Linked DNA regions of Homo sapiens: regions 2, 3, 4 and 5 are each linked to region 1. Evidence: fine-mapped expression QTL. A gene starts in region 1. Each other region holds a variant in brackets. All regions are shown on one strand. Distances are from middle to middle.

Region 1 (4,179 bases):
AGGTACCCTCCCAGTTTTCCCCTCTTAAGCTAAGTAACCACTGCTTGGGAGGCACTTTGGTATGGGGGAAAGAGCATGGAGTCACAGACTAGGTGAGAATCCTAGCTCAGTCTCAGTTCCTTCCTCTGTGAAATGGGGATGTAATACTTATCTCAAACACTAAAACATTACATGGCAAAGTACTGGCACACCTCACATGCAGAAAAAAATGTTGATTTCTTCCTCCTTTCTCTTTAATATTGGTCAATAATATGTATTAAGGTCAGAGTCAGAGCCCAATCACAATGTTCATAACGCCTTCTGAGTACTACTATACAACTAGTACAAGCTCACATGATCTCAACGAACTACTTACTTAAACTTGGGTCTCACTCCAAGCTCCCAAAAGGGAGGATGAGGCCAGGGACCCAAGTCTGAATCAGATCAACTCAGCTTACTCCACAGTAAACCCACTGTCTTCTCAATTCCACATACTTTCCCACCTCCACTGCCCCACCCCTCTGAGATTCCAATCGAACCCAACAATTCTGTTCCCACAACTTTGGATTCAGCTCGCCACCTGAAACTTGGAGAAGTTTCTAAGTCCTGCCCTCCCCTACAAGCCACGCCCCGTTGGTGGGCAAAGGGGTGGTTAAAACTCACCAGGCCAGTCCCACAGCTTTCATGGGGTTCTTGCCCCTCTTTCTGGGAATGTATTCCAGCTCCGGGGATAGGGGTTCAGGTTCCTCCTTGCCCTCTGGGGAGCTGTGGCTTTGCAGGGCCCGGGTCCTGTTATGAGAAGCCTTGTTAGCTGTGGCTCCTGCGAGAATCCCTGTGGATGGAGGTAAGGAAGGTCAGTAAGAAGAGATGAGAAGAAAGCAAGCGGGGAGGTGGGGGGCAGTAAGGGCTTGGGAGGAGCGGCTGAGATCTGGGGAAGGGGAGTGACTGCAGTCTGAAGTAAGAAGTGCCAAGGAGAATCCAAAGGGAAATGGGAAAATCGCCACCGAGGTGGCACCTTTGGAAGCCACTTCCACGTCACTGCGGGCTCATCACCCTGGTGCCAGGACGAAAAGCTTCGCTGTTCTTCCTCAGACGACAGCATGGGAAGGACTGCAGTGGGACTCACATAAGACGTATGAAGGAAATCCGGGAAAAGGTTTTGAAACTGCAAATGTTAGCACTGGAAGGGACCTTAAAGATAGTCTACTCCATCCCTTGCACTGTACGGAAGAGGAAACTGAAGCCCTGAGAGAAAAACTGCTTTGCCCAAGGTCAAACTGCTAATTATCCGGGGCTGGAACTCAAACCTCCAGAAGCCCGGGGCTCTTTCCTCTGCACTGCGGTGAGTGTGAAACACCTGGAGCGCGGGAGTCCAACAGGCTTCCTAGGAGCTCCCTCTTGCAGCAAGACCCCGGAGGTGTCGAGCAACCCGAAGGCGGGGGGATGCACTGGGTGACCTCTAAAGAGCATCTCTGCACCCCCAGACTCTAAGATCTTGCAGAAAAGTGTGGGGAGGAACCAAGAGCCCTGACCTCCTGCTATCGTCGGGCTGGACGTGAAAGAAAAGGGATCTTCTGCAGTCCTGCCCTCCCCGGGGTCCCTCTCCTTACCCCGGAGGACGCGGGCATTTCTCGCCCCCCGGCCCTTCAGCGCCGTAGCAGCTACCACCGCCGCCATGTTCAGATCCCACCCCCGCTTCACCGCGCTCCCCGCCGGGAATTGTAGTTTGCGTAAGGGGCCTCCCCCGCTCCTTCCGTCCTGCCTACAGACCAGAAACTACATCTCCCAGAAGCCCGCAGAGCGGACCCAGGAGAACTACTCTTCCCAGGAGACCCCGGAGGCGCGCGCGCTCGCTTGTTTCCCTCCAGTTGGGGGCGGAGTCAGGTGGGGCGGAGTTTGGGTTCTCTCCGCCACGCCCCGGCCCCATCTTCCAATGCCGCTCTGTGATTGGTGAGGCGGCCAGCCAACCTTCGTAGCTATTGGCCGAACGGCCGTCGCTCTTCCTGCTGGGGAGTCGCCTACGCCTACTTCCTGCCGGGAGGAGGGGCTCGAGTTCCGCGTCGTCGCGCAGAGCTGACTCTGGGAGGCGTTTGGGCCCAGAGAAGTGGATCCGCCGCTTGCGCCGCATGGAGTCCGAATCGGAAAGCGGGGCTGCTGCTGACACCCCCCCACTGGAGACCCTAAGCTTCCATGGTGATGAAGAGATTATCGAGGTGGTAGAACTTGATCCCGGTCCGCCGGACCCAGGTGAGAACTGCCGCTCCTCAGGCCATGGGACAGGAGACGCTCACCCCTGGCCTCTGACTCCTGCTTTTCCCCGCTCCCCTCCACACCCGACTGGTCATTCCTACCGATATCCCTCTTCCCCTCCTCCCCCACTCCCACCCTCACACTTAGTTCTCAGGCCTGGCTGGGGTGGGGGTTCCCTGACGCCTCCTCTGGCCCTTCCCCTCACACACCCCCTTCCCATCATCCCCTTGGCCCTCCCTTACCGCACGGTCTCTGGCCAGCCGTGGCCTCCCGTCCTGTGTCCCGCGCGCCCCCGCGGACCCCGGTGTGTCTGACTCCACCTTCCCTTCTCGCCACATGACCCGCCCCAGCCTCAGGCCTCCTCATGCTTCTCTCCGTACCTCTTACCGCCTCCCGAGCCCCATCTTCTAACCCTCTCCCCAAAGCAGATGACCTGGCCCAGGAGATGGAAGATGTGGACTTTGAGGAAGAAGAGGAGGAAGAGGGCAACGAAGAGGGCTGGGTTCTAGAACCCCAGGAAGGGGTGGTCGGCAGCATGGAGGGCCCCGACGATAGCGAGGTCACCTTTGCATTGCACTCAGGTAGGTCTTTGAGGCGATCCACCTCAAATCAGTTTAGGTGGGCGTGTAAGCATTAAACATCAGCCATGGACAGAACGTTATGGGGGACACAGAGATGGGCAAGATGCTGGCCTTGCGCTGGAGGAGCCCACAGGTGGGAAAGTGTGGCAGAATGGATGATTGCTTGGCTTCTGGCATCAGTCGAGACACCCTCTACTTTGCCAGTTAACCTTGATTAACCTCTTAGTTTTCTTTTAAAAAGTTATCTTTGGCCGGGCGTGGTGGCTCACTCCTGAAATCCCAGCACTTTAGGAGGCTGAGGCAGGTGGATCACTTGAGGTCAGGAGTTCGAGACCAGCCTGGCCAACATGGCAAAACCCAGTCTCTACTAAAAATACAAAAATTTGGCTGGGCATGGTGGCTCACGCCTGTAATCCCAGCACTTTAGGAGGCCCAGGCAGGCGGATCACAAGGTCGGGAGTTCCAGACCAGCCTGGCCAATATGGTGAAACCCCGTCTCTACTAAAAATACAAAAATTAGCTGGGCGTGGTAGCGGGCGCCTGTAGTCCCAGCTCCTCGGGAGGTTGAGGCAGGAGAATTGCTTGAACCCGGGAGGCGGAGGTTGCAGTGGACCAAGACTGCGCCATTGCACTCCAGCCTGGGCAACAGAATGAGAGTCTGTCTCCAAAAAAAAAAAAAAAAAAAAAGTTATCTTTGATAAAAGTTAATAAAAGTAGTGAGTATAAAATTAGAGATAATTGGCCAGGTGCGGTGGCTCATGCCTGTAATCACAGCACTTTGGAAGGCCAAGGCGGGTGGATCACCTGAGGTCGGGAGTTCAAGACCAGCCTGGCCGACATGGTGAAACCTCATCTCTACTAAAAATAAAAAAAAAATTAGCTGGGTGTGGTGGCATGTGCCTGTAATCCCAGCTACTCCGGAGGCTGAGGAAGGAGAATCACTTGAACCTGGGAGGCAGAGGTTGCATTGAGCTGAGATTGTGCCACTGCGCTTCGGCCTGGGCGACAGAGCAAGATTCCATCTCAAAAAAATAAAATAAAATGAGAGATAATTATATCTTTTTGAGCATATTTTATATAACTTTCTCAAGTGCTAGTTCTTAGTAAGAAACTGTTGCCAGGCACGGTGGCTCATGCCTGTAATCCCAGCACTTTGGGAGGCCGAGGCGGGTGGATCAGAAGGTTAGGAGTTCGAGACCAGCCTGACCAACATGATGAAACCCCATCTCTACTAAAAATACAAAAATTAGCTGGTTGTGGTGGCGGGCGCCTGTAATCCCAGCTACTCAGGGGGCTGAGGCAGGAGAATTGCTTGAACCTGGGAGGTGGAGGTTGCAGTGAGCTGAGATTGTGCCACTGCACTCCAGCC
Region 2 (4,179 bases), 67 kb before region 1:
CGAGGTGGGCGGATCACCTGAGGTCAGGAGTTCGAGACCAGCCTGACTAACATGGCGAAACCCTGTCTCTACTAAAAATACAAAACTTAGTCGGGTGTGGTGGCACACGCTTGTAGTCCCAGCTACTCAGGAGGCTGAGGCAGGAGAATTGGGCATCGCACCACTGCACTGCAGCCCAGGCCAAAGAGTGAGACTCTGTCTAAAAAAAAAGAGAGACTTGGAGAGTGAGGGGTTTAATCTAGCCCAGGGTCTAGCACCTCTGATGAAGTGACATTTGCAGGGAAGAAGGAGTAGGAATTAGGAGGCTGAAATGAGGTAGAAAAAATATTTCAGAAAGAACAGTGGTGGTCAGACTTTAGCATGCATCCTAATCATCTGAAGAAGGTTGGGTACAGTGGCTCACACCTGTAATCCCAGCACCTTGGGAGGGAAGGAGAGAGGATCACTTGAGCCCAGGAGTTCGAGACCAGCCTGGGCAACATTGTGCCCTATAGGGTCTCTACACACACAAAAAAAAGAATAGCTGGGCGTGGTGGCACACGCCTGTGGTCCCAGCTACTCAGGTAGCTGAGGCAGGAGGATTGCTTGAGCCCGGGAGGGTGAAGCTGCAGTAAGCCATGATTGCACCACTGTACTCCAGCCTGGGTGACAAAACAAGACCCTGTCTCAAAAAAAAAAAAAAAAAAATCATCTGAGGCTGGGTGTGGTGTCTCACGCCTGTAATCCCAGCACTTTGGGAGGCCGAGGCAGGTGGATCATCTGAGGTCAGGAGTTCAAGACCAGCCTGACTAACATGGTGAAACCCCGTCTCTACTAAAAATACAAAAATTAGCCGGGTGTGGTGATGGGCACCTGTAATCCCAATTATCTTTTTTGTAGAGATGGGGTCTCAGTTTGTTGTCTAGGCTGGTCTCGAACTCCTGGGCTCAACAAATCCTCCTGCCTTGGCCTCCCAAAGTGTTAGGATTACAGGTGTGAGCCACCGTGTCCCACCTGAAATTCTTTTTTTTTTTTTTTTGAGACAGAGTCTCGCTCTGTTGCCCAGACTGGAGTGCAGTGGTGCAATCTCGGCTCACTGCAACCTCCACCTCCCAGGTTCAAGTGATTCTCCTGCCTCAGCCTCCCGAGTAGCTGGGATTACAGGCTCACACCACCATGCCCGGCAATTTTTTGTATTTTTAGTAGAGACAGGGTTTTGCCACGTTGGCCAGGCTGGTCTCAAACTCCTGACCTTAGGTGATCCGCCTGCCTCGGCCTTTCAAAGTGCTGGGATTACAGGTGTGAGCCACTGTGCCTGGCCAAGCCTGAAATTTTTGTTTGTTTGTTTGTTTTTGAGAGGGAGTCTCACTCTGTCGTCAGGCAGGGGTGCAGTGGTGCAATCTCAGCTCACTGCAACCTCTGCCTCCCAGGTTCAGGCGATTCTCCTGCCTCAGCCTCCTGAGTAGCTGGGACTAGAGGCGTGCACCACCACACCCAGCTAATTTTTGTATTTTTAATAGAGATGGGGTTTCACCATGTGGGCCAGGATGGTCTCGATCTCTTGACCTCGTGATTTGCCCACCTTGGCCTCCCAAAGTGCTGGGATTACAGGGGTGAGCCACCGTGCCCGACCCTGAAATTCTTAATGATTTTATCTTTGACCTTGTGTCTTGCAAGTGGAGCCTGATAGGACAGTGGGACATGCAGGGAGCAAGAGACACACACAGTGAGTGTGCTC[C/T]GTTCCTCGCTTATCATACCTATACAGAGTCTGCAATGCCCATGAGCACACAAATCTGGGGGACACACAACGCATGGGAGTTCAACAAGACTCAAAGCAAGTACAAGGCGAGTGCACACCTATGACTGACCCAAGAGGCCAAGCTTTCAGTTCAAACTAGAACGTGCTTCAAGTGCACAAAGACAGAGGTGTTCTAAGAAACACGAATGACCAAGGAACTCTGCTGCATCCTTTCTTGCTTTTGTGTTATCCACCTATTTATGCTGCAAATAGCGATATAGAAAGGAAAGGGAAGATAGGGTAACCAATCCATCCTTTTCCTTTCCATCCTTCCTTATTAACTAGCAAGCCAACAGTGCTGGCAGAATGTGCACGTATTAAGAATTGAAGGCCGGGCGCGGTGGCTCATGCCTGTAATCTCAGAACTTTGGGAGGCCAAGGCAGGTGGATCACATGGTCAGGAGTTCAAGACCAGCCTGGCCAAGATAGTGAAACCCCATCTCTACTAAAACTACAAAAATTAGCTGGGCGTGGTGGCAGGCGCCTGTAATCCTAGCTACTTGGGAGGCTGAGGTTGTAGTAAGCCGAGATCTCACCACTGCACTCCAGCCTGGGCGACAGAGTGAGACTCCATCTCAATAAAAAAAAAGAAAAGAATTGAAGGCTGGGTGCAGTGGCACACACCTGTAATCCCAGCTCTTTGGAAGGCAGAGGCTGGTAGATCACTTGAGGTCAGGAATTGGAGACCAGCCTGGCCAACATGGTAAAACCCCATCTCTGCTAAAAATACAAAAATTAACAGGGTGTGGTGGTGGGCGCCTGTAATCCCAGCTACTTGGGAGGCTGAGGCAGGAGAATCACTTGAACCTGGGAGGCGGAGGTTGCGGTGAGCCAAGAAGATCACACCATTGCACTCCAGCCTGGGCAACAAGAGTGAAACTCTGTCTGAAAAAAAAAAAAAAAAAAAAAAAAAGAATTGAAGGCCAGGTGTGGTGACTCACTCCTGTAATCCCAGCACTTTCGGAGGTGGTGATGGAAGAAGTGCTTGAGCCCAGGATTTTGAGACCAGACTGGGCAACATGGCGAGACCCTGTCTCTACTAAAAATGCAAAAATTAGGCAGGCATGGTGGCATGCACTTGTGGTCCCAGCTACTTGGGAGGCTGAGGTGGGAGGATCACTTGAACCCAGGAGGTCAAGGCTGCAGTGAGCCATGTTTGCACCACTGCACTCCAGTCTGAGTGACAGAGGAGACCCTCTCCTGGTAAGAACTAAATACACATCCATGTATAAGCTAAGAAATATTAATTATGTCGTTTCTGTGATTCTACAGGAGTTAAATGTCCTTATATTTGTATTTAAAACAGGCATTGCACAATATTAAGCAAATGGTAAAATTCCTGCTAATAATTTAAATGCTTCTTACTTAGAATGACATTAAATAGCAAATTAAAAACATCACAGGTCAAAATAGAGATTGTAGAAGAAAAAAAGCTTCATATTTTAGTACTTTTAATGGCTATTTTTTCCAAACTTTTTTTTTTTTTTTGAGATGGAGTCTCACTCTGTCACCGTGCTGGAGTGCAGTGGCACGATCTTGGCTCACTGCAACCTCTGCCTCCCGGGTTCAAGTGATTCTCTTGCCTCAGCCTCCCGAGTAGCTGGGATTACAGGCACCCACCACCACGCCTGGCTAATTTTTGTACTTTTAGTAGAGACAGGGTTTCACCATGTTGGCCAAGATGGTCTCAATCTCTTGACCTCATGATCAACCCGCCTTGGCCTCCCAAAGTGCTGGGATTACAGACATGAGCCACCACGCCTGGCTGACCCTAAGTCTCTACAAGGATTGACCGTGTATGTGGGAGCAGGGGCAGCCGCTCTTCAGACCCCTAAGGGGAGAGCTAGCTGATTTGTCTGCAAGCAGTTGGGTCAAAACCAAGCAGGTTTCCATGGCAATTTGTAGATATGATTTAGGTAAAGTTTAATCACTGCATTGTCTGCTCTATGTACCCATGGGTTTATATTGATTGGCAATCTGGGCACATGGTTGAAGGGCTTTGCCAACCTTTATTTGTCTTTATGTTCCTTTTTCGTAGGCCTTCTTTTTTTTTTGGTTTTATTTCTAAATTAGATTTGGCCAACTTACATTTCTTCAACAATATTTACTGAATCCTTGCTATTGGCCAGGCACTGAACACACACTGAGCAAGGCAAACTCACTGTCCTTGTGAAGGTTCTATCTAGTAGGACAGACAGGACAATTAACATTTTTTTTTTCCAGATGGAGTTTCACTCTTGTTGCCTGGGCTGGAGTGCAATGGCGTGATCTTGGCTCACCGCAACCTCCACCTCCCAGGTTCAAGCAATTCTCCTGCCTCAGCCTCCCAAGTAGCTGGGATTACAGGCATGCGACACCACGCCCGTCTAATTTTGTATTTTTAGTAGAGATAGGGTTTCTCC
Region 3 (4,179 bases), 82 kb before region 1:
CAGAGGACACTAGAAGCGAACCTCTTCTAAAGCCTGAGCATATTTATGGCTGCGGCTGCAGCAGCGAAAGGAAAGAACTCTGTTATTTCAGGTTCTTAAAATGTTTAAAATTGGTATATTAGAGTGCTTAAAAGATACGTCTGCAGATTCAAGTTTAAATTGGGTTATTGAATAATTGATTTTGAATTTTAAAGTTTCTTATTGAGATTGCAAGTAGAACCAGAACATTAAAAAAAATAAAATTAAGATTTACTGTATTTATATGTTTACTTTTATTAGGTTGCAGTAAAGGTATTTGGGAGGCTGGTTTATCAATCAATCGCTTTAAAAAAGGAAATAAAATATATTGGATGAACAACTGCAGTATAAGCTGCCTAAAGCAGTTTTAATTTTGAAAAGAAGACCAACCAATTATTAATTAAAGCCCCCTTGGCTGGGTGCAGGGGCTTACACCTGTAATCCCATGGGAGGCCAAGGTGGGTGGATGATTTGAAGCCAGGAGTTGAAGACCAGCCTGGGCAACATAGTGAGACCCTGTTTCTAAAAAATGTTAACATTCACTAGATTTATGATGAGAATTATATGACTGGTAAGTTGAACTTAAAAGTTTTAAAAATACTTTTGTTTGTTTGTTTGAGACAGTCTCGCTCTGTCCCCCAGGCTGGAGTGCAGTGGCTCAATCTCGGCTCACTGCAAGCTCTGCCTCCCGGGTTCACGCCATTCTCCTGCCTCTCAGCCTCCTGAGTAACTGGGACTACAGGCGCCTGCCACCACACCTGGCTAATTTTTTTGTATTTTTAGTAGAGACAGGGTTTCACCACGTTAGCCAGGATGGTCTTGATCTCCTGACCTCGTGATCCGCCCGCCTCAGCCTCCCAAAGTGCTGGGATTACAGGCGTGAGCCACCGTGCCCAGCCAATACTTATGTTTTAAAATTTATATTTTCCTATTCAACATAGTATTGGAAGTTCTGGCCAGAGCAGTCAGGCAAGAGAAAGAAAAAAAGGGCATTCAAATAAGAAGAGAGGAAGTCAAACTATCCCTGTTTGAAGATGACATGATCCTATATCTAGAAAACCCCATCATCTCAGCCCAAAAGCTTCTTAAGCTCATTAGCAACTTCAGCAAAGTCTCAGGATACAAAATCAACGTGCAAAAATCGCTAGCATTCCTATATACCAACAACAGGCAAGCAGAGAGCCAATTCATGAACGAACTCCCATTCACTATTGCCACAAAAAGAATAAACTACCTAGGAATACAGCTAACAAGGAAAGTGAAAGATCTCTACAAGGATAACTACAAACCACTGTGCAGAGGACTCAGAGATGACACAAACAAATGGAAAACCATTCCACGCTCATGGATAGGAAGAATCAATATCATAAAATGGCCATACTAGTCAAAGCAATTTATAGATTCAGTGCTGTCCCCATTAAACTACAATTGTCATTCTTCACAAAACTAGAAAAAACTATTTTAAAATTAATATCAGATGAAAAAAGAGCCCAAATAGCTAAAGCAATCCTAAGCAAAAAGAATAAAGCTGCATCCATCACGCTACCTGACTTCAAACTACACTACAGGGCCACAGTAACCAAACAGCATGGTACTGGTAAAAGAACAGACACATAACTTTGTAACAGGTCTGGAAGCTCTGAGTTTATCTTG[G/A]GACCTCAAGAGAGGATCACCCAACTCACAGGTGTTAGAGGATACAAACCCATGGCTGGGCTTGGCTTTAAAAGTCTTATCTGAAATTCCTTGTGAAACAGAGTTTCATTAAAGCCAATGCAAAAGGCCTATGTAAGTAAAAATAACCATTCTTGCTGCACTTTACGCAAATAATCAGGCCAAGTATAAGATTGTAGGATATAATAAATTCCTCTTCAAAGGTTTTAGCCTATAAATTGTTAAGCACAATGAGTTCTGAGATCCTCTTCAAAGAACCAATGTATCAGTATATTCAGCTCTCCTGTTCTTTGTTCTTCATTTTAAAGTTTCTCGTTCTTTACATCTCCTTGCCCCTAGTTACAGTAAACAACCCCCTCCTAGCCTCTATCACCTGCTCTGAACTTAGTCACCCTTGGTCACCTGCTCTGTTGTTAGTCATCCTGAGTCACCTGTTCTGTAACCATCCTTCCTGCCAAACTACCTATCCCACCACTCTGGCTCATACCCCTGCTCTCTTTAAAATAGCCAATCAGAATTAGCTTAGACTGTGTGGTCCAACCCTAGCCAATAGGGGAAAGACACAGCAGTAGGGACTAGCTGAGTTAGGATAAGAACCCCTTCCCCTCCCTTGTTCAGGTGTGCTCTCGCCATTGCTCCATCCGTGAGACACACCCTTGTATGGAAGTAAAATTGCCTTGCTGAGAAAATTAAATTTATGTTTGAGTGCTATTTCTTTTCTTTTTTCTTTTTTTTTTTTTTTTTGAGATGGAGTTTCACTCTGTGGCCCAGGCTGGAGTGCAGTGGTGCGATCTCGGCTCACTGCAAGCTCTGCCTCCCAGGTTCACACCATTCTCCTGCCTCAGCCTCCTGAGTAGATGGGACTATGGGCGCCCACCACCACGCCTGGCTAATTTTTTGTGTTTTTAGTAGAGACGGGGTTTCACCGTGTTAGCCAGGATGGCCTTGATCTCCTGACCTTGTGATCTGCCCACATCGGCCTCCCAGATTGCTGGGATTACAGGTGTGAGCCACCGCACCTGGTCTTGAGTGCTATTTCTTTTGCAGCCCTGATAATTTATTTCTAAAAGGACTAAAGTTTATTCATAATTAGTGCTTACCAAAAATGAGGACTGAAGAGAAAAATTTTGATCCAAAGCTTATCATACATTTGTCATTAAATCCTAGTTTCATTAATTGTTTTTAAACTTTTTGCTTACATTTTAGACTAACCCTGCTTATTCCTGTGAATCAAGAGGTGATCTTCTGCAGCTTGGAAAAAAAAAAGCGATGGGTAAGGTAAAAAGGTGAATCAATACTCTAGTTCTGGGCAATTATCTTGCAAATTTTGCCAGGTAAAGAAAGTGAGTAAGGTGCTCATAACCGGGAGGTTTCTTTGTTTGGGAAAATAAAACCAAGGAACTTCAGAGACCCTAAAAGGGGAATTCTATATCTTGGCAAGTAAAAAATTTTTTTTGAGACAGAATTTCACTCTTGTTGCCCAGGCTGGAGTGTAATGGCACAATCTTGGCTCACTGCAATCTCCGCCTCCCAGGTTCAAGCAATTCTCCTGCCTCAGCCTTCTGAGTAGCTGGGATTACAGGCATGCACCACCATGCCCCGCTAATTTTTTGTATTTTTTTGTAGAGACGGGGTTTCTCCATGTTGGTCAGGCTGGTCTTGAACTCCCGACCTTAGGTGACCTGCCCACCTTGGCCTCCGAAAGTGCTGGGATTGCAGGCTTAAGCCACCGCGTCCGGCCGGCAAGTAAAATATTAGGTGGAAATTATCTACCACACTACACTTGTGGAAATTGCTGTCCTCACTCTACTATTTGCAATAGTGTTATACACAGTAGCACCTTCTAACTAAAATATTGGACAGTTTCCATTGCTGTCCTATTTTGCTTAATTATTATCCTTATAACCGGGATAATAGTTATTGACAAAAAGGAAGCATAAAAGTTTTACTATCACTAAGTCAGCTAGGACTTTTTAATTGGGTTTAGTGATGCACTTTTTTTGGTGGGGGATGGAGTTTTGCTGTCTTGCCCAGGCTGGAGTGCAGTGGTGCAATCTTGACTCACTGCAAGCTCTGCCTTCCGGGTTCACACCATTCTCCTGCCTCAGCCTCCTGAGTAGCTGGGACCACAGGTGCCCGCCAGCACGCCTGGCCAATTTTTTGTATTTGTTTAGTAGAGACAGGGTTTCACTGTGTTACCCAGGATGGTCTCGATCTCCTGACCTCATGATACGCCCGCCTCGGCCTCCCAAAATGCTGGGATTACAGGCATGAGCCACCGCACCTGGCCCTAGTGATGCACTTTTAAATGAAACATGCTGCTTTTGGATTAACACCTAGTAAAGTAAAGGAAAATCTACAGGTACCTAAAGATAAAATCAAAATTATTAACAGGCTCAGGGAAAATGCCAGCTTCAGCCCTCAGTGGCTACAATCCCTCTTTAATAAATTACAGTCTTCTTTATGGAATGGTTAATCCGTTTATTAAGC
Region 4 (4,179 bases), 53 kb before region 1:
GAGACTCCGTCTCAAAAAAAAAAAAAAAAAAAAAAAAAAAAGAAAATTATTTAGATACCTTCATGTTTGGGATTTTTTTTTCTTTTTCTTTTTTTTGTTTTTTGAGACGGAGTCTCACTCTGTCGCCCAGGCTGGAGTGCAATGGCTGCGATCTCGGCTTACTGCAACCTCCCTCTCCCGGCTTCAAGCAATTTTCCTGCCTCAGCCTCCTGAGTAGCTGGGATTACAGGCGCTTACCACCGTGCCCAGCTAATTTTTGTATTTTTAGTAGAGATGGCGTTTCACCATGTTGGCCAGGCTGGTCTCGAATTCCTGACCTCAGGAGAGCCACCTGCCTCAGCCTCCCAAAGTGCTGGGATTACAGGCGTGAGCCACCGCACCTGGCCTAAATATTTTTCAATCTCATTATTTTAATGCAACGTGCAGAGCAATGGTAACTTACTTGGCACATTATCTAAACTGCGACCAAGGTTTAGGATATTAGAGATGTGAATGCCCCAAAAGGCACAAACACAAGATCCCCACCCCACCCTCCAGCACCATGTTTTTCTAGTTATCCTGCCTTTATATCTGCATTTCTTAGACTGTGAGTGGAATCCTGCGCCTGAAGCTTCTGGGCGTGTGGGGTGGTCTGGGGAGGAGAGGGTGAATTGCACAATGTCTGCTCGGAAGCTCGGGAAATTCCCAGGCTTAGGCTCTCCCCACAACCTGGCCTGTGGCCAGGGCTCTCACAATTCCCATCCCCAACATTACTGTCCCTAAACTGGGGCTTGAGGTCCTGACCCATGGCCAGGCTGGTAGTAGGAAGGGGACAGGGGGCCTCGGAGGCCTGTCTTCTTCCCTGCCTCTCAGTGTCCCTGGGGCTGAACAGTGCTTGCTAGGCACCACCCTCCCCTGGGGCCAGGAAGGAAGGGGTAGAGGGAGGCAGGAGGGCAGAGTGAGCGGGGGAGGGTCGACGGAGACAAATCACTGGAAAAGTGGGCAGAGTCAGTTGGGTCAGATTTCACAGCCTGGGGCTTCCACACGGGCCAGGCTTTGGTTAGAAGGAAAGGGACATACTGGAATCCAACAGGGTTGGGACTCTTGCTTGGGACAGAAGAACCTAACTTGACTGGTGAGGAGTTGGATGCTGGGGAGTGGGACAAGGACATACGAAAGGAGTTGGCGGTTTTAAATGTCAGACGGTGGGAGGCATTCCTTCTCTCCGGCACTTGCCATCGGAGCCCGGGCATCTGCTGACCTCACCCCCGGACAGGGACGGTCTTCCCAGCCCTGGCTCCTGCACTATCCCCCTGTCCAGCTTCCTGGTCTCCAGCCCATTCTGTGGCACTTTGCTCCAGATGTCCTCTCACGCCCTCCTTCCGTGGCCACCCTGGCCCGCCTCTCCGATCCTCCTTCCCCAGCTTATCCCAATTGTCCAGCCCCCCAAATCCCTCAGGCCCCCCAACTCAGTGGCTTCTCCAGTCCGTCTCCTCGATCCCTCTTCCCTTAGACCAAGCCCCTTCCTAACCGCCACGCCCACCCCCAGCTCCAGCCCCCGCCTCCCAGTCCCCTCTCCCAGCGCGCCCGCCTCCCGAGCCCGCACGCTTCGGAGCCCGGGCACTAACCCGATTCGGAAGAGCAGCCGCTGGCTGTGCGCCATGAGCAGACCGCGGAGGCCCCGCCGCGCTCGGCAGCCGCGGGGGCTCACAAGTAGGACGAGGACAAGGACGAGGAGGAGCCAGCAGCCGGCGACCCACTGCCACGCCGCGGGCCAGCCCTGCCAAGCCATGCTGGGGGCAGGCACGCGCCGGCCGGGCGGGGCTCGGCGTTGCTAGGCAACGGCCCGGCCCCGGCCCCCCGCGGGGAACCTGCCTGCCGGCTCTGGACGTGGGGGCGTTGTGGCCCCGCCCCGCCCATTGACCTCTCCTTTGGACCCGCCCCCTCACCACCTCCAGCCGGGCAAGCACCCCGAAGGCCACCCGGCTTGGGGGGCGGCCTGGCTCCGCCCGGCTGGCGGCCAGGAGGCGGGGCCACAGCGGGCCGCGAGCCTGCGCTGATCGGGGTCCACAGTCGCCTGAGCCCTGGGAAGGGGCAGGAGCTCGCAGTTCGCCCCGCCCGCCTCCCCGTCCAGGGCACTGCTACACTTTCTCAACTGGCAGAAACCTGAGAGATCATCGGGGTCAGCTGCCATTCATGGATTTATTCATTCGCCGAATTACTTTTCTAGCTCCTCCTATGTACTTGGCACTCTGCCAGGCTCTGAGGAGGATGCAAGGGTCAAAGGCACACTGTCTGCATTCCTGGAGCCCACAGTCCGGAATCTAGTGAGGCGACGAACCAAATAAGCGAGCAAACAAAATTATATCTGTTTATGCATACACATACATATGCGCGTGATAAATTGCGAAAGGA[A/G]GTCAAGGAGGGGGCAATGATATGGAGCACAGAGAGGGCCAACTTAGATGGGGGAGGGCCTCCCCAGCGGACGACATAAGTCCTGCCCTGAAGGATAGGAAGAGGCCACACAAGCTCTGGAGGAGCAACATGACCTAGGATATGTAGCCATGGGTGGCACAGAGGGGCCTAGGGCTGGGGCATTCCCACTCCCAAACCCAGGGCGATTTCCACATCACCGTTCCCAGCTCCCTCACTGCTGCCCTCCTGATGGATTCTAGAAGTTGTTAAGGTCCCTGGAATGGAAGCAGGTGTGAGGACAGGCGTGGTGGTGGTGAAATCTACAAATTTAGGCACAGGAGCCAGGGCTGGGCTTGTTTTGGCTCCAGCCCTAGCTCTGGCCCAGGACAGGAAGGGAAGGAAATGCTCTAAAGAGTCAAGCTCGGCCAGGCGCGGTGGCTCACGCCTGTAATCCCAGCACTTTGGGAGGCCGAGGGGGGCGGATCACGTGAGGTCGGGAGTTGGAGACCAGCTTGACCAACATGGAGAAACCACGTCTTTACTAAAAATACAAAATTAGCCAGGCATGGTGGCGCCTGCCTGTAATCCTAGCTACTCGGGAGGCTGAGACAGGAGAATCGCTTGAACCCAGGAGGCAGAAGTTGCGGTGAGTCGAGATCGTGCCATTGCACTCTAGAGCAAGACTCCGGCTCAAAAAAAAAAAAAAAAAAGAGTCAAGCTCGGCCGGGAGCGGTGGCTCACGCTTAATCCCAGCACTTTGGGAGGCTGAGGCCTGCGGATCGCTAGGTCAAGAGATCGAGACCATCCTGGCTAACACGGTGAAACCCCATCTCTACTAAAAATACAAAATTAGCCTGGCATGGTGGCATGCACATGTAGTCCCAGCTACTCGGGAGCCTGAGGCAAGAGAATCGCTTGAACCCGGGAGGTGGAGGTTGCAGTGAGCTGAGATTGTGCCACGGCACTCCAGCCTAGGTGACAGGGGTGAGACTCCGTCTCAAAAAAAAAAAAAAAAAAAAAAGTCAAGCTCACCTTTGCTGCTGCTGGGAGGTTCTGGGAGGGAGATGGGTGAGGGATATGTTAAATTATCTTCAAACTGAATTGTAATTCCAATACCTGAATCTGGGTTTAATCCAGAAAACCCAGACAGACCTGGAGTTTCTTCTATGTGGGTACATCTTGAGGGACAGAGCCTATGGCCTGCTCCCTCCCTGTCTCCTCGCCTGTAATTAGGTTGCTTCTCAGTGCCTGGCATATAAAGGGCTGGTACCGCAGAGGAGACAGAGGAGTGAGAAAACTGATAAGCCAATTTGCAGATGACCCTTGTAGGATGCAGGAGTTTGCATCTCCGTGTCTGTGTCTGTACATGCAAAGTGAAGGATCATGGAGGCATCATCAAAAGTCATTGTGCACACAACTTTCTGCAGGTAAGGCTGTGCCAGGTAAGGCTATATCAGGCATTCTATCAAGAAATTAAAATGCAGTCCTGTAATCTGAAACAGGAAATGCATGCTCAAGCATGAGCTTGTAGAGAACACAGAGATGACCAAATTCTAAATCTCAAGCCAGACAATTAACAAGATTATAGATAATAAATCCAAGATATGTTTGATGAAACATATGGAGTCAAGGCGGGACTGGGAAAAGGAGTGAGGGTGAGTGTTTTAGGGGAGTCATGCAGGCCCAGGGAGCCATAACCCCACCCTTAGACTGTTCTGGAAGACTTCTAATGTCTGCTGCAAGTGGGCTTTAGTTTCACTTCCTCTGCCATAAGAATTTTCTATC
Region 5 (4,179 bases), 46 kb before region 1:
ATCATGCAGGTCTGGCCTGTGATGTGGGTTCCTGGGTTGGGGTGGGGGTTCTTGTGTCTCCTCCTTGTTCCACCTGTCATCCCAGGCTGCCTGTCCCTGGTGTCTGAATCTTGCCTTCCCTACTGGCCTGAGAGGTTCCCTTAGAATGGAGAGCCTGCCTCCATCTTTGCACCGTGGCTCACGCTTGATGACTGGTGCTTGGTTGGCATTCAGGAAATCACTGGTGGTGATGATGATGATGATGACAGTGACGATGGTGATGATGACGAAACAATCATGAAGGAGCTGAGATGGTTGGAGCTGTTTAAATGTTAGAGAAAAGAGACATCTTGTCAGACCTGGGTGGAGAAATTAGTTCAGTTTAGAAAAGTGAACCCAGTGCAGAAGTGGTGACTGGGATAATCTGGCCTCTGCTTAGCCCAGTCCATCCCCTCATCTGTTATCCCCAACCAAAGCTCACTTTCCCTCGTGGACCATTTTCTCATGAACTCCTGTCCGAGCCATTTTGCTGTACCCTGCAGAACCCTGGTTTGGTCTGAAACAAATCCTTCCCCAACGTCCTCTGCCTTCTCACAGAGCTCCCAGCCTGTCTGGACTGAATATGATCCCTGTCTTCTATTCCCTACCTTCTCTCTCACTGCCCTGCCTTCTGCAGTGGAAGCCTTTAGTCTCCTACATTGTCTCCAGGTTGGAAAGGAATGCACTAGCAATAGTCCAGGCCAAGGCCATTGCTCTTCCTGACTCATGTACAAACTTCTTTCCACCCCTCCTCATCAGTCCCATACACTGATCAGCCCAGACTCTCTAAGGATTTCAACACCTGTTTTTAGTCTTCCTGCCTGATTCCTGCCATCAGGTAATTCCAACAAGCATGGCTCATTCAACATCATAGCACAGCAGTTTTCAAGTGTTAGGGAGCCTAGGAACCACTCAGGGAGCTTGTAAAAATACGGAATTCTGGTCCGTCCCCCAGAGATTCAAACTTAGTAGGTTTGGCTGGGGCCCAAGAGTGTGCATTTCGCATAGGTGGTTCTGAACTCTGCCTTGACCTCAGTTCCTGACTTCAATTCCAATGCCTTCGACATAATTCAGCAGCTTGCTCACATGGCCACACCCTAGATTCACCTGGAACTTCTCTGCCTCTGAGAACCTAAATTCCAATGTCCTTTTCCCTGATCCCCTCCCATCCCCAGTACACATGGACCTCCAGTTCCAGCTCCTCAGGCAGTTTGTTTTCTTCCAGCCCTTCAGCCCCTCTTGCACCTATATTTGAACTTAGGCTCAATCCCTTGAACTACTTACCACCTGTTAGCTTCCTGATCCCCTGACCCCCTTGACCTCCAGCCTTAACCTACCAACCTTCAGACCTACCTGAACCAACCTGACAGTCTCCTACCTCACGGGCAGGGCTGAAGAAAACTGCTGTGTCATATGACTCAGGGCTGCGATGGTTCAGGCCATCCCAAGTCCCTGATACCAGTGCTTGGCAGTTCCGTTTTGCTGAGGCCCCATCTCATCTGCAGTTGTTATTCCAAACCTCAAGCCCCAACGTCATTTCCTTTACTTTCAACAAATATCCTTCTTAGAGAAAACAATTTCTGTGACTACCTACCCCTCTACATATTTT[G/C]CAATTTTCCTCAGCCTAAGAGCAAATTCCAGCATCTCCCTGCCTTAAAAACTTCCTGGCCGGGCACAGTGGCTCACGCCTGTAATCCCAGCACTTTGGGAGGCCAAGGCAGGCGGATTGCCTGAGCTCAGGAGTTCGAAACCAGCCTGGGCAACAAGGTGAAACCCTGTCTCTACTAAAAATACAAAAAATTAGCTGGATATGGTGGCGGGTGCCTGTAATCCCAGCTACTTGGGAAGCTGAGGCAGGATAATCACTTGAACCTGGGAGGTGGAGGTTGCAGTGAGCTGAGATCGTGCCACTGCACTCCAGCCTGGGTGACAGAGTGAGACTCTGTCTCAAAAAAAAAAAAAAAAAAAGAAAGAAAGAAAAAAATCTTCCCTTGACCTTGTGCCATTTTCTAGACTCCATTCTGCCTTTATCTCAACACAATCTAGTTTCCTGAAAGGCTGTCTCCAAAGGTGTGGTAGATGGCATTTCAGTTTCCAGTTATTCATCTCTCACTGTAAACATACCGTTCACCCTGTGACTGTGCATCACTTCAATGGAGGCGAGGTATATTTTCCCACGCCACTGATGTTGCTGGTCTAAGGGAGATGAAAGGCACATGGAGCCACCTGGATCCCACTCACAGCTTGGAAGTCAACCCAGCCCAGCAGAGCCCAAGCTAGATCAGCTAAAGCTCAGCCTGCCCACAGATGCATGAGCAAGATACATGCTTATGATTGTAGGCTTCTGAGTTTTGAACTGGCTTCTTATGCAGCATTACTGCAATAATAGTTAACAGTGACAGAGGGAAACAGAATATTAATGATGCTGGAAAGACATGATGGATGAGTGACTAGCTATTTACAAAAGAGCAATTTAGACTCGTGCCTCACAGAATCCACCAAAATAAATTCTACCCGAATTAAAGGGTTAAGGATATAAAATTAAACCACAGAAAATTAGAAGAAAATGAAAGACATGTTCAATCTGGATAGCAGAGGATTTTCTAAAGCTAAAAATAACAAATGCGTCATTCTAATTTTCCTTAATAGGCGTATGTTATTCTTAAAGGCATTTATTATTCCTATTATTCCTTAAAGGCATACATTATTCAGAAAAAAGCAACAGAAGATCTAACAAGGGAAATAATTACTGTTTTAGTTACTTTAAAATTTAAATCCTTGGCCGGGCGCCATGGCTCATGCCTGGAATCCCAGCACTTTGGGAGGCCGAGGCGGGTGGAGGCCGAGGTGGGTGGATGACGAGGTCAAAGAGATTGAGACCATCCTGGCCAACATGGTGAAACCCCGTCTCTACTAAAAATACAAAAATTAGCTGGGCGTGGTGGCGCGTGCCTGTAGTCCCAGCTACTTGGGAGGCTGGGGCAGGAGAATAGCTTGAACCTGGGAGGCAGAGGTCACAGTGAGCTGAGATCACGCCACTGCACTCCAGCCTGGTGACACAGCAAGACTGTCTCAAAAAAGAAAGAAAGAAGAAAGAAAGAAAGAAAGAAAGAAAGGAAGGAAGGAAGGAAGGAAGGAAGGAGAGAGAGAGAGAGAAAGAAAGGAAGGAAGGAAGGAAGAAAGAAAGAAAGAAAGAAAAAGAAAGAAAGAAAGAAAGAAAGAAAAAGAAAGAAAGAAAGAAAACCTCAGGCGGGCATAGTGGCTCATGCCTGGCATCCCAGCACTTCGGGAGACTGAAGCAGGTGGATCACTTGAGGCCAGGAGTTCAAGGCCAGCCTGTCCAAAGTGGTGAAACCAAGTCTCTGCTAAAAATACAAAAATTAGCAGGGCATGGTGGCAGGCGTCTGTAATCCTAGCTACTTGGGCACTGAGGCACAAGAAATCGCTTGAACCCAGGAGGTGGAGGTTCCAGTAAGCCGAGATCGCCCCATTGCACTCCAGCCTGGGCGACAGAGTGAGACTCTCTCAAAAAGAAAAAAAAAAACGAACTTAAATATACTTGATCTTAGCCAAAAGGCCAAGGAGTGATTACAGACCTTAAATAAATGTGAAAACACAATGACCTCAATTAATAAATTAATAAATGGCTAATAAATATGAAAAAATGTGAAAACTCAAAAGAATCAAGAAAATCCAAGTATAGCCAGGCATGGTGGCTAACTTGCACCCAAAGTACAAGTAATCCCAGCACTTTGGGAGGCCAAGGTGGGAGGATCGCTTGAGCCCAGGAGTTCCAGACCAGCCTGGGCAACAGAGGGAGACCTCATCTCTACAAAAAATTTAAAAAATCAGCCAGGCTTGGTGGTACACGCCTGTGCTTCCAGCTGCTCAGGAGGCTGAGGTAGGAGGATCTCTTGGGCCTGGGAGGTAAAGGCTGCAGTAAACTGTGATCATGTCACTGCACTCCAGCCTGGGAGACAGAGACTCTGTCTCAAAAAAAAAAAAAAAAAAAAAGCCAGGGCGCGGTGGCTCACGCCTGTAATCCCAGCAATTTGGGAGGCAGAGGCAGGCAGATCACCTGAGGCTGGGAGTTTGAGACCAGCCTGACCAACATGGAGAAACCCTGTCTCTACTAAAAATACAAAAAATTAGCCGGGTGTG

Evidence for each region. PIP is the estimated chance that this variant, and not a neighbour inherited with it, causes the effect.
Region 2: its variant is fine-mapped to the expression of PNKD in whole blood (TOPMed, PIP above 0.99).
Region 3: its variant is fine-mapped to the expression of PNKD in whole blood (INTERVAL, PIP above 0.99).
Region 4: its variant is fine-mapped to the expression of PNKD in monocytes (TOPMed, PIP above 0.99). The same link has a PIP of 0.9 or more in whole blood.
Region 5: its variant is fine-mapped to the expression of PNKD in whole blood (TOPMed, PIP above 0.99). The same link has a PIP of 0.9 or more in blood mononuclear cells, monocytes, monocytes after LPS and monocytes after Pam3CSK4.

Annotation. Positions count from the first base shown.
Region 1 is chr2:218,268,013-218,272,191 of GRCh38, reverse strand. PNKD (PNKD metallo-beta-lactamase domain containing) reads right to left here and starts at 1,673. Exons shown (of 10, transcript NM_015488.5): 1 at 1,590-1,673; 2 at 643-811. The coding sequence starts at 1,656. It overlaps AAMP (angio associated migratory cell protein), which reads left to right and starts at 2,055. Exons shown (of 11, transcript NM_001087.5): 1 at 2,055-2,226; 2 at 2,658-2,810. The coding sequence starts at 2,106. RefSeq lists enhancers at 1,379-1,428, 1,459-1,838, 1,989-2,308, 2,877-3,762.
Region 2 is chr2:218,335,300-218,339,478 of GRCh38, reverse strand. The region is part of intron 2 of PNKD (PNKD metallo-beta-lactamase domain containing); the gene reads right to left. All of the region lies in intron 2 of CATIP-AS2 (CATIP antisense RNA 2), which reads left to right. Among named protein-coding and RNA genes, the nearest start is that of MIR6810, 4.5 kb to the left of the region's middle. The variant C/T (reference allele first, on the strand shown) is at 1,718.
Region 3 is chr2:218,349,943-218,354,121 of GRCh38, reverse strand. It overlaps CATIP-AS2 (CATIP antisense RNA 2), which reads left to right. Exons shown (of 4, transcript NR_125777.1): 2 at 2,896-2,962. It also overlaps the pseudogene RPL19P5. Among named protein-coding and RNA genes, the nearest start is that of CATIP, 4.8 kb to the left of the region's middle. The variant G/A (reference allele first, on the strand shown) is at 1,672.
Region 4 is chr2:218,320,860-218,325,038 of GRCh38, reverse strand. The region is part of intron 2 of PNKD (PNKD metallo-beta-lactamase domain containing); the gene reads right to left. It overlaps LOC105373881 (a long non-coding RNA gene), which reads left to right and starts at 3,001. Exons shown (of 3, transcript XR_923914.3): 1 at 3,001-3,040. RefSeq lists an enhancer at 1,566-2,161 and a silencer at 1,644-2,163. The variant A/G (reference allele first, on the strand shown) is at 2,395.
Region 5 is chr2:218,314,076-218,318,254 of GRCh38, reverse strand. The region is part of intron 2 of PNKD (PNKD metallo-beta-lactamase domain containing); the gene reads right to left. All of the region lies in intron 1 of LOC105373881 (a long non-coding RNA gene), which reads left to right. LOC105373880 (a long non-coding RNA gene) reads right to left here and starts at 1,505. Exons shown (of 2, transcript XR_923909.3): 1 at 1,372-1,505; 2 at 1-300. The variant G/C (reference allele first, on the strand shown) is at 1,628.